Regions from separate parts of the Homo sapiens genome. Here region 1 is linked to region 2. The links come from fine-mapping of genetic effects on gene expression. Tissue or cell type: Th2 cells. Region 2 holds a variant in brackets; the other region holds the start of a gene. All regions are shown on one strand. Distances are from middle to middle.

Region 1 (8,106 bases), 380 kb before region 2:
CACTGAAACCTCCGCCTCCCAGGTTCAAGCAATTCTCCTGCCTCAGCTTCCTGAGTAGCTGGGACTACAGGTGCATGCCACCATGCCAGGCTAATTTTTGTATTTTTAGTAGAGCTGGGGTTTGGACATGTTGGCCAGGCTGGTCTTGAACTCTTGACCTCAGGTGATCCGTCCGCCTCAGCCTCCCAAAGTGATGGGATTACAGGCATAAGCCACTGCACCTGGCTGAGAACTTTTTTGTTTTTGGGTTTTTTGTTTGTTTGTTTTTGAGATGGAGTCTCACTCTGTCACCCAGGCTGGAGTGCAACGTTGCAATCTTGGCTCACTGCAACCTCCACCTCCTGGGTTGAAGCAATTCTCCTGCCTCAGCCTCCCAAGTTGCTGGGATTACAGACATGCGTCACCATGCTCAGCCCAGTTTTTTTTTTTTTTTTTTTTGAGATGGAGTTTCGCTCTTGTTGGCCAGGCTGGAGTGCAATGGCATGATTTCAGCTCATCCCAACCTCCACCTCCCAGGTTCAAGCGATTCTCCTGCATCAGCCTCCTAAGTAGCTGGGACAACAGGTGCACGCCACCATGCAAGGCTAATTTTTGTATTTTTAGTAGAGACGGGGCTTCACCATGTTGGCCAGGCTGGTCTCAAACCCCTGACCTCAGATGATCTGCCCGCCTCAGTCTCCCAAAGTGCTGGGATTACGGCGCCCGGCCCAGAACCACAGTTTTAAAACAATCATTTAACAAGTCTTCTTATACTTACATAGCCATCCCCACACAAAAATCTAGAAAAATGCCAAAAAGTTAACCTTGAGTATGTAAAGGGGAAGAAAGGAGCTATGTGCATTCGAAGGAGACTGCTGTTGATAGTTCCATTACAAAATGTACCCAAGGCCATTCTATCACTTGCCTCTGAGAATATACACAAAATACCTGTTTCTACAAATACAAGGAATGATGGGAAAAGAACACAGGACACTGAAACTCTCAGTACTATTTCATAGTCTGGCTGCAAGAAAAAAAAAACTCACAGTCTCGTGAAGGGCATTCACGCAGGGCTTTCACTATGCAGCAAAAAATTGCAAACACCAAATTCCCCAGGAAGGGTTTGGCCCAACAGTGGAGCCCTGCACAGGTGTTTAAAATACAGTGAACTCCCATTGATGTTTATTTCCCTAGTGGAACAGGCACTTAACAAACGTTTAATAGATCAAGGAGTTCAAGGCCAGCCTGGCCAACATGGTGAAACCCTGTCTCTACTAAAAAGACAAAAATTAGCCAGGTGTGGTGGCATGCACCTGTAGTTCCAGCTACTAGGGAGGCTGAGGCAGGAAAATCACCTGAACCTAGGAGGTGGAGGTTGCAGTGAGCCGAGATCGTGCCACTGCACTCCAGCCTGGGTGACAGAGCGACTCCATCTCAAAAAAAAAAAAAAAAAAAAAAAAAAAAAGTAACAGTGGCCAGTGTGGCCCACAAAGTCTAAAACATTATCTGGGCCTATAATGAAAATGTTTGTGGGCTGGGCGCAGTGGCTCATGCCTATAACCCCAGCACTTCGGGAGGCTGAGGCAGGAAAGTCGCATGACCCTGGGGAGGCAGAGGTTGCAGTGAGCCGAGATCGCACCACTGCACTCCAGCCTGGGAGGCAGAGAGAGACTCTGTCTCACAAATAAATAAATAACGCCAGGCGTGGTGGCTCATGCCTGTAATCCCAGCACTTTGGGAGGCTGAGGCAGGCTGATCACCTGAAGTCAGGAGTTAAGAGACCAGCCTGACCAATATGATGAAACCCTGTCTCAACTAAAAATAAAAAAATTAGCTGGGTGCGGTGGCATGTGCCTGTAATCCCCGCTACTTGGGAGGCTGAGACAGGAGAATCGCTTGAACCCAGGAGGCAGAGGTTGCAGTGAGCCAAGATCGCACCATTGCACTCCAGACTGGGCGACAAGAACGAAACTCTGTCTCAAAAAATAAATAAATAATTAAAATGTGGCCGGGCAGATCATGAGGTCAGGAGTTCGAGACCAGCCTAACCAACATGGTGAAACCCCGTCTCTACTAAAAATACAAAAATTAGCCAGGCGTGGTGGTGTGCGCCTGTAATCTCAGCTACTTGGGAGGCTGAGGCGGGAGCATTGCTTGAACCCGGGAGGCGGAGGTTGTGGTGAGCTAAGATCGTGCCATTGCACTCCAGCCTGGGCAATAAGAGCGAAACTCCGTTTCAAAAAAATAAATAAATAAATAAACAAACAAAAAATAATAATAATATTTAAAATGTTTTTGGACCCCCCGAAATAAACCCCTGAAGGAAAGAAAAGCCAAGATCTACAAGATATTCAGAGTGAAAAACAAGGCTGAATTATCCATTAGGCATAGTGCCTAAGTCCCCTGACATCTTTACAGACAACAAAAAAGTTTTCATTCTTTATAAAACAAAAGGTAGCAGGTTTGGTGGCATGCATCTTTGGTCCCAGCTAGTTGGAGTCTAAGACAGGAAGATCCCCTGAGCCCAGGTGTATTGAGGCTGCAGTGAACTGTGATCACACCACTGCACTCCAGCCTGGGTGACAGAGAGTGATCTTATCTCAAAGATAAAACTTTAATGATTAAAAAAAAAGAGGAGGAAAGTGAATAAAGTGCAACCCAAGTTATATTCATCTTTATATCAATGCAGTCACAAAATATAATTTCAAACACTTTCTTTTAATGGAGGAAGGGCTCACAAAAGCTAAAGTTCTTAAGGCCCACAAAATTCTTAATGATGCCTTCATGGGGAGGGGAAAAAAAGGGTATGTGTAAAACCGTACGGAGTAGGAACAAAGTAGGACAACTCACACTTCCCAATTGCAAAACTTAATACAAAGCAAGAAAGTGTGGTACTGGCATAGAGACAGACATATAGACCAGTGGAATATAACTGAAAGTCTGTAATGAAACCCATACATCTGGGCCGGGCGCGGTGGCTCACGCCTGTAATCCCAGCACTTTGGGAGGCCGAGACGGGCGGATCACGAGGTCAGGAGATCGAGACCATCCTGGCTAACTCGGTGAAACCCTGTCTCTACTAAAAATAAAAAAAAAAAAATCAGCCAGGTGCAGTGGCGGGCACCTGTAGTCCCAGCTACTCAGGAGGCTGAGGCAGGAGAATGGTGTGAACCCGGTAGGCAGATCGCGTCACTGCACTCCAGCCCAGGGAACAGAGTGAGACTCCGTCTCAAAAAAAAAAAAAAAAAAAAAAAACTACGGCCAGCTGATTTATGACAAGTGGCCAAGGCCATTCAATTGAGGGAAAAAAAACATCTCTTTAGGAGATGGTACTGGATAACTGGATATTCACATGCAAAAGAATGACACTGGATGTTATGTATTTTACTACAAAAACAGTAACAAAAATACCATATGTGAGATGTGATGCTCCTTCTGGTGAAGGAGTCCTCTCATGACAGAAGTTGTAGTCATCTTTGAACAGGACGTAAGAGCAGATGTGGTAGATGTGGTGGTCAAGGGATCCCTTCTTTACCTGTTATGATCTCTATTCTTGACTTAATGGCACAGCAACAAGTTTGATGTGTGCCTTCCTGGAATAATGTCCGCCCCCAGCCAGGAAGGCCAATCACCAAGTTCCCCTCACCTGCAGGGAAATGTCATTGATCTGCACATCATCGGTGCTCCACTTCCCAAAGAGCTTGATGTCTGGGGTCTCTGCCACCGCTGGTGCTGCTGTCTCCCACTCGGTCATCCTGGGACAGGGTGATGACAGGAAAAAAACGTCAGAGCTCAGCTAGCATGGAGCAAAGGCGCACTCATTCCCAACTCTGAGGCTAGCCGCCATCTAGTGATGAACTGGGGGGTCGCAAAGGACCAAGAAAGGCCGTGAACGTGTTTTCAAGCACTAGAAAAATTACTCAGCTGTCAGCAAGAAGCATCTGTCTTTCACCTAGAACCCCTGGGCCCAAGACTTGGCAGCCACCAGTCAACAGCTGCTGCACTGGGACCAAGGTATAATGGCTCAGCAGATGCCATACGTCCTCACACTGCATGGGCTGTAATTCAAACCACAATCTCGCGATTTACATGGTCTTTGACCCAAGTCAACGTTCCGTCTCGGACTGTTTCTTTGGCCGTGAGGCGGGACCGTTATATGACATCAAGGACCACGGTAGGTACCGTGTGGCACAATCAACCCAAAGGTTTCGATTCTTGACCGACAGTATGAAGGCTCTAGGGGCTGCTATTACGGGGGGAAAGTTACACAGAGCAAAAGAGGGCATCGTGTCCCTAAGAAATGGAAACTTCCTATCTCAGAGTACAACCGCATAGTTCAAACCAAGTTCCCCAAGCCCCGCTATGGGGAAAAGCTAGAAGCGGCGGAGCACCAGAAAGAAGTCAAGAGTAACTCGGCCCGCGCCCGTTTCTTCTACATTTTCTTTTCCAGAGACAGAAATGAGACCTAATGAGAAAAGGCCCAGGCCGCGGGGCACTATCCCCGAAAGACCATGAACCGTCCCTAGGATCCCCGGCCCCGCGGCGGTCTCACCTGAGAACACAGCCTGAGCGTCTCTGTCACTCGGCGTAGACCACGCGCCGCCCTGGTACAGACAGGAAGAGGCCGCGCGCCGCGGGCCAACACTTTTAACTGGGAAGAAAACTTCCGGGTCAGCACGGGTGACGCTTGCGTAAAAGGCCATCGTGTCCCTATAGACCAATCCGGAGGAAGGTTGTAGAGGAACCTTTTGGGCTAGACGGAATGGGTGCAGCCCAAGCGCATGCGCAGTTGCAGAAGCGGCCCTAGAAGCGTGCCTGGCGGATGTCCGCTACCCCGTAGTTGCCCTGTCTTGTGGGCGCCTGCAAAAGCGCAGAGATTTCCGTGAGACCAACGCAGCCATGTCTAATAAAGAAAAAAGTCTGGCCAGCGCTCGCTTCTTTGTTCAGCTGCTGACCTTAAATCCCACCTGCCGCGGGAGTAGCCAGTTCAGTTCCCTCTGACTCCTCGCCGCGGCCACAGCCGCCTCACCGGCACGCGCCTGATGCGGACCTGGGTTAGCGGAGTGAGGCCCAGTGGTCACCGCCGCCCTCCGCAGGTCCAGGTTGCCGTGCGCATGTGCCTGCCACACGCGGCCCCTCCCCCACCGCCCGGCCCAGGAGCACCACGCTCGCGAGCCCCGGATCCCGAGCCTCTGGCTGGGCCTGTTTCCCTGCTCGACCTTTCCTGCCATACCACGCTGGGTTCCCCCACAGCCTCCGCGCCCTTCACCTCTGCTATGCAGTAATCTCGCCCGTGGAAGAGGGGAGACCGCCGGCACGAGGGCCCGGGGTTGCGGCGGCGGGAGCAGCGCGACCCGTCTCTGGGTGGAGCGCGGAGGTAGCCTACAGGCTACGCGCGGTGTCCGGGAGGAGGGGGTCGGCAGGTCGGGGACCCTTCGTGTTTGTCCTTGTGTCCTCCACGGCCGGGGAGCCCGCGCGAGGGGTTGCAGCCCCCTGCCCTCAGGGCTCACGTCACGAGGCCCTCGTGTCTGCAGACGTGGCTCTCAGGGGTGCCTCTTGAACTGGCCGACCTCTCCAAGGGTCAGAAACGTAGGTTTCTGGCCAAAGGTTGAAAGGAGGGATGGAAGATTTAGCCATGAGATGAAGGAGATTATTCCCGCCAGCACACAATCCCCTGCCCCCCAACTTCTGTCCCTTCCCCCAGCTGCCTCTGAACAGGTAGGGCCTCTGAACAGCTCAGCCCTGGCTGGGAGCAGACAGCGAACCCTCTCACAGGGCCTGAACTATTGCGTGGGATTGAGGATGTGGGCCTTCGACCCGGGGTCCTCATCCGTGCGTGGGGTTGGCACGGTAGTGAGTGCCCCAGCTCACTCTACTCACTTGGCCACCCTGGCAGCCAGTGTGGACAGTCTGCCTGCCCATGACCCCTTCATACCCCTCTGCCTGTCCCAGCCTCTTAGATCTAGGCTCATGAGCAGAACTGGGACTTTCCAGAGGTAGCAACTACTTTGACTGTGTCTCTGCCTGCAGCAGGCATAGACATAACCTTTACGAGGCGACTCCAGGACCACCTGGGGCCGCCCTGTCTCTGATGCCCATCTCTGCCTCCAAGGGGTTATCCCTCCAACTCGGGATCCGAAGGGCCCAGCCACCTGACCCAGGTCCCAGGGCTGGGCCTGCCCCCTACTCCCATCCCTGAGGCGTGCACATAGCAGGTGCCCAGCAGCTGTGTTTCTTCACTGCCTGACTGTAAAGGCTCTTCTTACCCCAATTCTGGGGCGTTTCTGTCCAAATATGCTGAGGACTCCCCACAGTGGGCCCTTGGACTGTGGTCAGTCACAGCTCATGAAAGGACACATGCCCTGAAGCTGGGCTGGTCAAGGGGTCAGACCTCAGCCTCTGGTGAGGGGCACGGCCTACTGCCACCGCCTAATGGCCTTTACCCCTGCCCTCCATCCTGTGCAGAGTAGCAGCCTTGGGGCTCCCACTGGGGTCTGTGTGGTTGCAGGAGGGGCTAGGTGGGCTTCTCCCTGGTCTTGAGTGAGGGGCATGGGGGTGCTGGTTGTAGGGAGGGTGGGAGAAAACAGGCAGCACTCATCAGGACAGTGAGCCCACCCCTCTGAACCTGTTTTCCCCTTCAGTGTGGAAATGAGAATGCAATGAGGCAACGTCAATGTGAACCCTGTGGCCTGGCTACCATGGTCATTTGATAATGGACATCTTTACAGACCTCATGAGAATGACTCATCGTGCTGCAGAGGGCAGGTGCCCTCAAGTGTGGCGTGGTGAATACTGCAGAGCCGAGACTCATGCACCCCCCACCCCCGCCACCAGGTCCAGGGTGGTCCAGCCTCCCCAGGTCCCCAAGGTGCTACGATAAGATGCAGAGTCTGACCTCATAGATCTAGGGCTGCTGGTGCTGTGTTCTTCAGACTGGATGAGGACCCCAGAGACTCTGCAGAGATCTACCTCACTTCTGGTACATTGTGTCCATCCTGAGTGGCCGGCCCCAGACTGGACTCCTCACTTCTGGGAAGGCACCCTCTGGGCCCTGCTGGGCCACCTGCCCACTCTCCAGGCAGTCACTTTGCCTGTCCACCCTACCAGCCACAGTCTTACTGTTAGCTGATCTTACATCCTTGTGATGGCTCCTTTTTTTTTTTTGTGACGGAGTCTCACTCTGTTGCCCAGGCTGGAGTGCAGTGGCGCAATCTTGGCTCACTGCAAGCTCCGCCTCCTGGGTTCATGCCATTCTCCTGCCTCAGCCTCCCGAGTAGCTGGGACTACAGGCGCCCGCCACCACGCCCGGCTATTTTTTTTGTATTTTTAGTAGAGATGGGGTTTCACTGTTAGCCAGGATGGTCTCGATCTCCTAACCTCGTGATCCGCCTGCCTCGGCCTCCCAAAGTGCTGGGATTACAGGTGTGAGCCACCGCACCTGGCCGTGATAGCTCCTTAATGCCTTTACTGGCACCTTGGTTGTCTGTTGAAGTCCCCAGCCTGATTATCAACTCGTTTGGAGTGTGCTGGATTCAGTCCACCCAGTTGCCTGGCAGAGCCAAGCCTGGCCCTGCCGCATCCCAAACTTGATCTTGTGCCCATGGCTGATACTTCATGGGCTACTTTGGCCTAGCCACTGTCTGCTTCTATGGGATGCCCACCTGTAATGGATTGAATGGTGGCCCCCAAAAAGGTAAGTTCATGCCCTAATACCCAGACCCAGCGAATGTGACCTATTGGAAAAAAATCTTTGCAGATGTAATTTAGTCAAGGATCCCAAGATGAGAGCATCTAGGATTAGTAGGGTGGACCCTAAATCCAATGACAAGTGTCCTTATAAGAGACAGAAGAGGGCCGGGCATGGTGGCTCATGCCTGTAATCCCAGCACTTTGGGAGGCCGAGGCGGGCACATCACGAGGTCAGGAGATCGAGACCATCTTGGCTAACACAGTGAAACCCCATCTCTACTAAAAATACAAAAAAATTAGCCAGGCGTGGTGGCGGGCGCTTGTAGTCTCAGCTACTCGGGAGGCTGAAGCAAGAGAATCACTTGAACCTGGGCGGTGGAGGTTGCAGTGAGCCAAGATCGCACCACTTCACTCCAGCCTGGGTGACAGAATGGGACT
Region 2 (8,106 bases):
CCTCCCAGTTGTTTGTGAGATTCATCCTAGTGGTGGTTATGTGTGGTTGTGGATCTCTTGTTCTAATGACTGGTGAGATCCCATTGTGCGGACGCACCACGGCTGCTTCATCCACTCCAACAGGGATGGGGGATTTGAGAAGCCTGCTGATCAGCGGCTGCAATGAGCCGTGTCTCATTGTTGTGTCTTTTGGGGACATACAGGTGAATTTCTGTTGGGTGTGGCATTGCTGGGCCACAGGTAGACATACCTGCAGCTTTTTTTTTTCTTTTATTTGAGAAGAGGTCTCACTCTGTTGCCCAGGCTGGAGTGCAGTGGTGTGAACGTGGTTCACTGCAGCCTTGATCTGGGCTCAAGAGATCCTCCTACCTCAGCCTCCCGAGTAGCTGGGACTACACGTACATGCCACCCCACCATGCTTGGCTAATTTTTTAAAAAATTATTTTTATAGAGACAGGGACTCATTATGTTTCCCAGGCTGTTCTTGAACTCCTGAGCTCAAGCAATCCTCCTGCCTCAGCTTCCCAAAGTGCAGGGATTATAGGCATGAGGCACCATGCCAGGCCATACCTGTGGCTTTAACAGACACTGGTGGTGCTTCCAGTTCACACTCCCACTGTGAGTGTAGGCAATGCCCAGTTGCTCCCTGCATTAGTTTCTATAGCTGCTGTTAACAAATTACCACAAGCGTATGAAACAAAGCACATTTCTTATCTCACAGTTTTTATGGTTCAAAAGTCCGAGTGCAGCCGAGTGTGGTGGCTCAGACCTGTAATCCCAGCACTTTGAGAGGCCAAGGTGGAAGGATTGCTTGAGTCCAGGAGTTCAAGACCAGCCTGGGCAACAGGGTGAGGCCCCTGTCTTTACAAAAACAATAATAAAAAAAATAGCTGGGTGTGGTGGTGCATGCCTGTAGTTCCAGCTACTTGGGAGGCTGAGGGGGAAGATGGCTTTACCTGGGAGGTGGAGGTTGCAGTGAGCTGTGATCGAGCCACTGCTTTCCAGCCTGGGTGTCAAGAGTGAGACCCTGTCTCAAACAACAAAACAAAAAGAGCAGTTGTTGTTACTACTTGGAAAAAATTAACCATTTTAAAAAAACATGCAAACATGTATACGGGGCGTGTATTTTTCCTTGTGCCTCAGGATCTAATGTGGCCCATCCCATCACTGGTATCTCAAAATTATAAATCTGTGGGGGAAAGAAAGAGATCAGACTGTTACTGTGTCTATGTAGAAAAAGGAAGACATAAGAAACTCCATTTTGATCTGTACTAAGAAAAATTCTTCTGCCTTGAGATGTTGTTAATCTGTAACCCTAGCCCCAACCCTGTGCTCACAGAAACGTGCTGTATTGACTCAAGGTTTAATGGAGTTAGGGCTGTGCAGGATGTGCCTTGGTAAACATGTGTTTGCAGGCAGTATGCTTGGTAAAAGTCATCGCCATTCTCCAGTCTCGAGTACCCAGGGACACAATGCACTGCGGAAGGCCGCAGGGACCTCTGCCTGAGAAAGCCTGGGTATTGTCCAAGGTTTGCCCCCCTGAGACAGCCTGAGATGTGGCCTCGTGGGAAGGGAAAGACCTTACCGTCCCCCAGCCTGACACCTGTAAAGGGTCTATGCTGAGGAGGATTAGTGAAAGAGGAAGGCCTCTTTGCACTTGAGATAAGAGGAAAGCCTCTGTCTCCTGCTCCTCATCCCTGGGAATGGAATGTCTCGGTAGAAAACCTGATTGTACATTCCATTTACTGGGATAGGAGAAAACTGTCTTACGGCTGGAGGTGAGACATGCTGGTGGCAGTACTGCTCTTTACTGCACTGAGGTGTTTGGGTAAAGTCAAACATAAATCTGGCCTACGTGCACATCCAGGTGTGATACCATACCTTGTTTTAATATGAATACTCTCTCTTAGCTGAGAAAGCTGGATGGACTCCATTTAGCTCCTTCATTTGCAAGACCTCAAGGGCTCCTTACCCACTCCCTTCCTCAAGGACTTAACTTGAGCAAGCTGACTCTCAGCATATCAAAGAGTGCAATTAACTGATAAGGTACTGTGGCAGGCTATGTCTGCAGTTGCCAGGAATTCACTGGGGTAATAGTACCCTAAAGCCCCCGCGTTTGTGTCTGGCAGATAGCACCCAGAGCCCCCGCACCTATCACCTTGTGATGGATTTAAAGCCTCTGTACCTGGAACTGTTTGTTTTCCTGTAACCATTTGTCTTTTTAACTTTTTTTTTTGCCTGCTTTACTTCTGTAAGATTGCTACAGCTAGGTTCCCCCTCCTCTAAACCAAAGTATAAAAGAAAATCTAGCCCCTTCTTCGGGGCTGAGAGAATTTTGAGCACTAGCCATCTCTCGGTCACCGGCTGATAAAGGACTCCTGAATTAGTCTCAAAGTGTGGCGTTTCTCTATAACTTGCTTGGTTACATCACAGGCACAGCACCTTTCCTTAAACTTATTTATGACACAGAGTCCTTTGCTCACATGTTTTCCTGCTGACCCTCTCCCCACCATTACCGTGTAGTCCTGCCACATCCCCCTTGCCAAGATGGTAGAGATAGTGATCAATAAATACTGAGGGAACTCAGACTGCTGCTGGTGTGGGTCCTCTGTATGCTGAGTGCCGGTCCCCTGGGCCCACTTTTCTTTCTCTACACTTTGTCTCTGTGTCTTATTTCTTTTCTCAGTCTCTTGTCTCCACCTTGCGAGAAATACCCACAGGTGTGGAGGGGCAGGCCCCCTTCAATCAGTAATGAATAGGTGTGAAACGCTGGTAAGGCTGGTTTAGTGCATAGGGAGCCTTCCTTCACATGGCTGGTGTCATTACGATCCTGTGGCAGACGCAGGGATGTGTGTCTCCCACAGGTACGAAGAGATGTCTTCTGTGCCCAGAGGAGCAGTACTCAAGCCGCACCAGAGATGGCTGCCTGCCCAGGACAGAGACCTTCCTGGCCTTTGACGACCCCCTGGGACTCATGCTCGCCTTGGTGGCGCTCATGCTGGCCAGCCTGGCAGTGCTGGTCCTCAGACTGTTCTGAAGCACCGAGACACACCTGTGGTCGGGGCCAACAACAGAGCTCTCAGCTGCACGCCGCTCACCTCCCTGACCCTCTGTGCCCTCTGTCCCTTGCCTTGCCTTGGTTGTCCCACAGCTGCCACCTGCCGCCTCTACCAGACCACAGTTGCTGTTGTGTTCACCATGGCTGTCTCTTCCGTCCTGGCCTTCAGGGTCACCAGGTGACAGGGTCTGGGTGTGCCTGGGACCTGGC[G/A]CTTCCACCTCGGTGGTCCTTGCTGCTTCCTTGGTGCAGGTTGTTCTCTGTGGCATCTGGCTGGGCACTTCCCCACCATTCCCAGATGGGGACATGGCCTCAGAGCCCAGCCACATTGTCATCCAGTGCTGAGAGGGCTCTGCTGTCGCTTTCTCCTGTGTGCTGGGCTACCTGGGCCTCCTGGCTGGGGGCACCTTCTTTGTAGCCTTCCTGGCCAGGGGTCTGCCAGACGCCTTCAACAAGTCCAAGTTCCTCACCTTCAGCGTGCTGCTGTTCTGCAGCTTCTGGACAACCTTCCTGCCCCTGTACCACAGCGCACAGGGCAAGTCCACTGTGGCCGTGGAGATCTTTTCCATCCTGGCTTCCATGGCAGGGCTGCTGGGTGGCATCTTTGCCCCAAATGTTACATCATCCTGCTAAAGCCCGAGCGGAATGCCCCAGACTGGGTGAGGCGAGGACACTGGGATCGGTGGGAAACGTGGAGCCAGGAGCTCCTCAGACCTGCGCCATAAACCCACGAGCCAGGCCTTGTTGAAGATATCAGGGCCCCTGATTTGAGCTCTGGGCTTCTGTGTGGATTAAAAGATAGTTAAAGGATGGGCGTGGTGGCTCACGCCTGTAATCCTACCACTTTGGGAGGCTGAGATGGGCAGATCACTTGAGGTCAGGAGTTCAAGACCAGCCTGGCCAACATGGTGAAACCCTGTCTGTACTCAAAATACAAAAATTAACCAGGTGTCGTGGTGTGCACCTATAATCCCAGCTACTTGGGAGGCTGAGGCAGGAGAATCACTTGAACCTGGGTGGCAGAGGTTGCAGTGAGCCAAGATCATGCCATTGCACTCCAGCCTGGGTGACAGAGCAAGACTCCATCTCAAAAAAAAAAAAAAAAAAAAAAAAAAAGAATAAAAGATAAAATTCAACAATAAGAAAACAAGCAATTTCAGCTACTTTTTTTTTAAAGCCAAGCAAAGCATTTGAACACAGTTCACCACAAAATATGCAAATGGAAAGGAAGTATATGAAAAGATGTTTAATGTTAGTAATTAGGGAAATCAAAACTACAGTGCAATACCCAATACACACCTATTAGAATTGCAAAAAATAAACCATATCATGTTGCCAAGGATATGGAGGAATTACAACTCTTATACAGTCCTTGTCCATGATTCAACTTATGATTTTTCAAAATTATGATGGTATACAAGCTATACAAATTCAGTACTCTCCTCAACTTGACGGATTTATTTGGGTATTGTAAATCATTTGATTCATGGTATTTTCAGTTTACCATGGGCTTATTTGGACCTAACCCTATCGTAGTTCAGGAGCATCTGTGTATTGCTGGTGGGAATGTGAAACGGTACAAACACTTTGGAAAACAAATGGAGAGTTTCTTAAAATGTTGAACTTTCGTGGGGCATGGTGGCTCACGCCTGTAATCCAGCACTTCGGAAGGCTGAGGCGGGTGGATCACGAGGTCAGGAGATTGAGACCATCCTGGCTAACACGGTGAAACCCCGTCTCTACTAAAATGAAAAAATTAGCTTGGTGTGGTGGTGGGCGCCTGTAGTCCCAGCTACTCGGGAGGCCGAGGCAGGAGAATGGTGTGAACCGCGGAGGCGGAGTTTGCAGTGAGCCGAGATCGCGCCACTCCACTCCAGTCCGGGCGACAGAGTGAGACTCCATCTCAAAAAAAAAAAGTTGAATTTTCATTTCCTATATGATCCAGCCATTCTACGCCTAGGCATTTATCCAACAGGAAAGGAAATGCGTGTCCTTAGGAAGACTTGTACACGAATGTTCACAGAAGTTTATTTTTAACAGCCGCAAATAGAAAACAGTTTACATGTCCACGGACAGATGCGTGATAAACAATGGTGGTGCATCCATGAGATGGAACACCACTCAGCAATAGAAGGAATGAGCTACTTACATATGCAACAAAATGGATAATCTCAAAATAATTATGCTGAGTAAAATAAACCAGATCACAAAAGAGTACACTCAAATGTGTCACTGCATTTATATACAACTGTTAGAAAATCCAAACTAATCTGTATATATAACAGAAAGCAGATTGGCGGTGGTTTGAAAGCAGGGCAGAGAGGGGCGTGGAATGCTGAACGGAGGGGCTTCAAGGATCTTGGGAAACCAGAGCTAGTGATGGTTTTGCGGGTTTAGATATTTGCCAAAACGCATGCAGGCGAGCGCCGTGGGAGGGAGGGAGGGCGGGTGCACAGCCGCCGGCCGCCCGGGGCTGGAGGACGCGCTTGCTGCCTGACAGGGTTCCCCCAACATCCCCGGGGCCGCGACTGAAGTGGCTGAGGCCAACCGAGGGCCCAAAGCGCCCGTGGCTTCGGCTGGGCGGGTTCTTAATATTTTATTACATATATATATGCATATATATATTTACGCATATATTTATGTATGTGTACACATACATGTATATATTATAAACTATATACAAATTATACAAAATATATGTAATTAAATATACATACATATGTACATAATTTTATTTATTTTGGAGACAGGATCTCACGCTGTCGCCCAGGCTGGAGTGCAGTGGCAGGATCATAGCTCACTGCAGTCTTGACCTCCTGGGCTCAGGTGATCCTTCCACCGCAGCCTCCGGAGTAGCTGGGAAAACAGGTGGGCGGTAACCCCCCCCACGAATTATTTAAAGTTTTTTTAAGAGATCAGGCGGGAGGGCCATGTCTACCCATGCTGCCGGGGGTGGCGAAACCCCATGTCTACTAAAAATAGAAAAATTAGCCGGGCGTGGTAGCGTGCGCCTATGATCCCAGTTACTCAGGAGGCTGAGGCAGAATCGCTTGAACCTGGGGGGCGGAGGTTGCAGTGAGCCAAGATGGCACCATTGCACTCCAGCCTCCCATAATAGGTGCACCCAAGATGATGGTATGGCCCTGCCTCTGCCACCTCTCCATGCTGCCGGGGGCTCAAGCGATTCTGCCGCCTTGCCCTCCTAAAGTGCCGGGATTACAAGCGTGAGCCACCGCGCCCAGGCCTAGAGGTTTAGATCCACCTAGAGCAAGTGACTAAAGCGGGCGGGCAAGGTACTGCCGGTGGGTCTGGCCTGGTCGTCCTGGATTCGGCCAAGCCTGGATTCCACTGTAGCCACATGACCTAGGGGTCCAGGACCCGCTGGGCTGGTGTTCGGGGCGGCCTGGAGACTACACATCAGGGCGGCGCCACTACGCAAGCGCGGGTTACGTCATCGGCTGGGCGCCGAGCCCAAGCGGCGCGTTACCCAGGTAACCCTCGTGGACGCTGAGGCGCGCGGCTGTTGGCTGGAGCCAGCCTCTAGTCGCTCTGACAGGCTTCTGGTTTTCTGGTCCTCTGGTCTTTCTAGGCGGGACCGAATGAGGTGAGGCAGCCCAGGCCACAGGGTGCGCCACCATCGTCTGGTATTTTGATGCCAAAGAACGGGCAGCCAGACGAGCATCAGCGTCAGGGCGGAGAGGCGCTTGTGCCCCGGAGCCAGGATGCAGCGCCTGGGGAGAGTCATTGCCTCCTGCCGGCATCCCAAGCCCGCCCGCTTCTCCGGCCTAGAATGCGGGGTGAGTCTCCAATCCGTTTGGCCGTGGCACCTTTTCCACCACTGGGCCGCCGCTGCTTGGGCTGGGTGAAAGGTGCCGAGAGGAGCATGGGTGTGGAAGTCCTGTCAGCTAAGAAATAAAAGTTTACCTCAGGGCTCCAAGACAAAAAAACTTACATTACTCACTTCAAACATGTGCAGTTTATCTGCAGTGTGCAATTATACCACAATTAAGTTGATTAAAAAAACAATAGGTAGGATACTATTTTTAGGACCTAGATCTAGTTGGGATCTTGAAAGTAATACATAAAACACAAGCTATGAAAGAAAAAACATTTCTAAAGAATCTTTTTCTTCAAAAGACACCACGGATGAGGTAAAAGGCAAGTCCAGGCTGGGCACGGTGACTCACACCTGTAATCCCAGCACTTTGGAAGACCAAGGCGGGCGGATCACTTGAGGTCAGGAGTTTAAGACCAGCGTGGCCAACATGGCGAAACCCCATCTCTACTAAAAATAGAAAAATTAGCCAGGCGTGGTATCGCGCGCCTGTAACCCCAGTTACTCAGGAGGCTGAGGCAGAATCCCTTGAACCTGGGAGGCGGAGGTTGTAGTGAGCCAAGATGGCACCATTGCACTCCAGCCTCCCATAATAGGTGCATCCAAAATGATGGTGTGGCTCTGCCTCCGCTACCTCCCAGAAGAGAATAGGGTGCTGCCCGCAACACTGGGTAACTGGAGTGGGAGGGAGCTTGGGCCAGAAGGGAGCAGTATCTCCACACACTTGCAACTTACTTCCTCCCCATCAAGGCCCTTGGTGAATAGCTCTGTATTGAGAGGCCTCCTTTATTTCTTGACTCCTTCTGAACATTACAGGCTATATTGCCCCTTATGATGCAAAACCTTGAACCTACGGTCTGTTGGCTCTACCTTTAAAGTATCAGCATGTCCGCAATCCAGCCACTGATCACCAATCTGATCCGAGCGGCTATCATCTTCCACCTAATTACTACATTGGTTTCACACATGACTCTACTGCTTTCCTTGGTTACTCTCCATACAGAGGCTAGAGCTCATCAATGCTCTACTCAGAACCCTGCCAGAGCCCTCATGATGCCTTCAACTTTCTCTACCATCTGGCCCCCTTATTGCCTCTATGACCACTGTTGTTCCCGCAGCTGACTAGGCAGGCCCTCACACCAGGGCTTTTGTTCTAGCTCTTCCCTCCGATGTCTGCATCTCTTATTTTTATTTATTTATTTATTTAGACGGAGTC

What was found. PIP is the estimated chance that this variant, and not a neighbour inherited with it, causes the effect.
Region 1: RPS5 starts here. The variant in region 2 is fine-mapped to the expression of RPS5 in Th2 cells (Schmiedel 2018, PIP 0.93).

What each region holds. Positions count from the first base shown.
Region 1 is chr19:58,383,765-58,391,870 of GRCh38, reverse strand. RPS5 (ribosomal protein S5) reads right to left here and starts at 4,602. Exons shown (of 6, transcript NM_001009.4): 1 at 4,532-4,602; 2 at 3,626-3,734. The coding sequence starts at 3,733. MIR4754 (microRNA 4754) reads left to right here and starts at 5,013; the gene lies at 5,013-5,101. RefSeq lists enhancers at 4,292-4,341, 4,535-4,829, 5,892-5,961, 5,982-6,201.
Region 2 is chr19:58,008,185-58,016,290 of GRCh38, reverse strand. It overlaps the pseudogene VN2R19P. Among named protein-coding and RNA genes, the nearest start is that of ZNF606-AS1, 9.3 kb to the right of the region's middle. RefSeq lists enhancers at 6,228-6,287, 6,298-6,347. The variant G/A (reference allele first, on the strand shown) is at 3,269.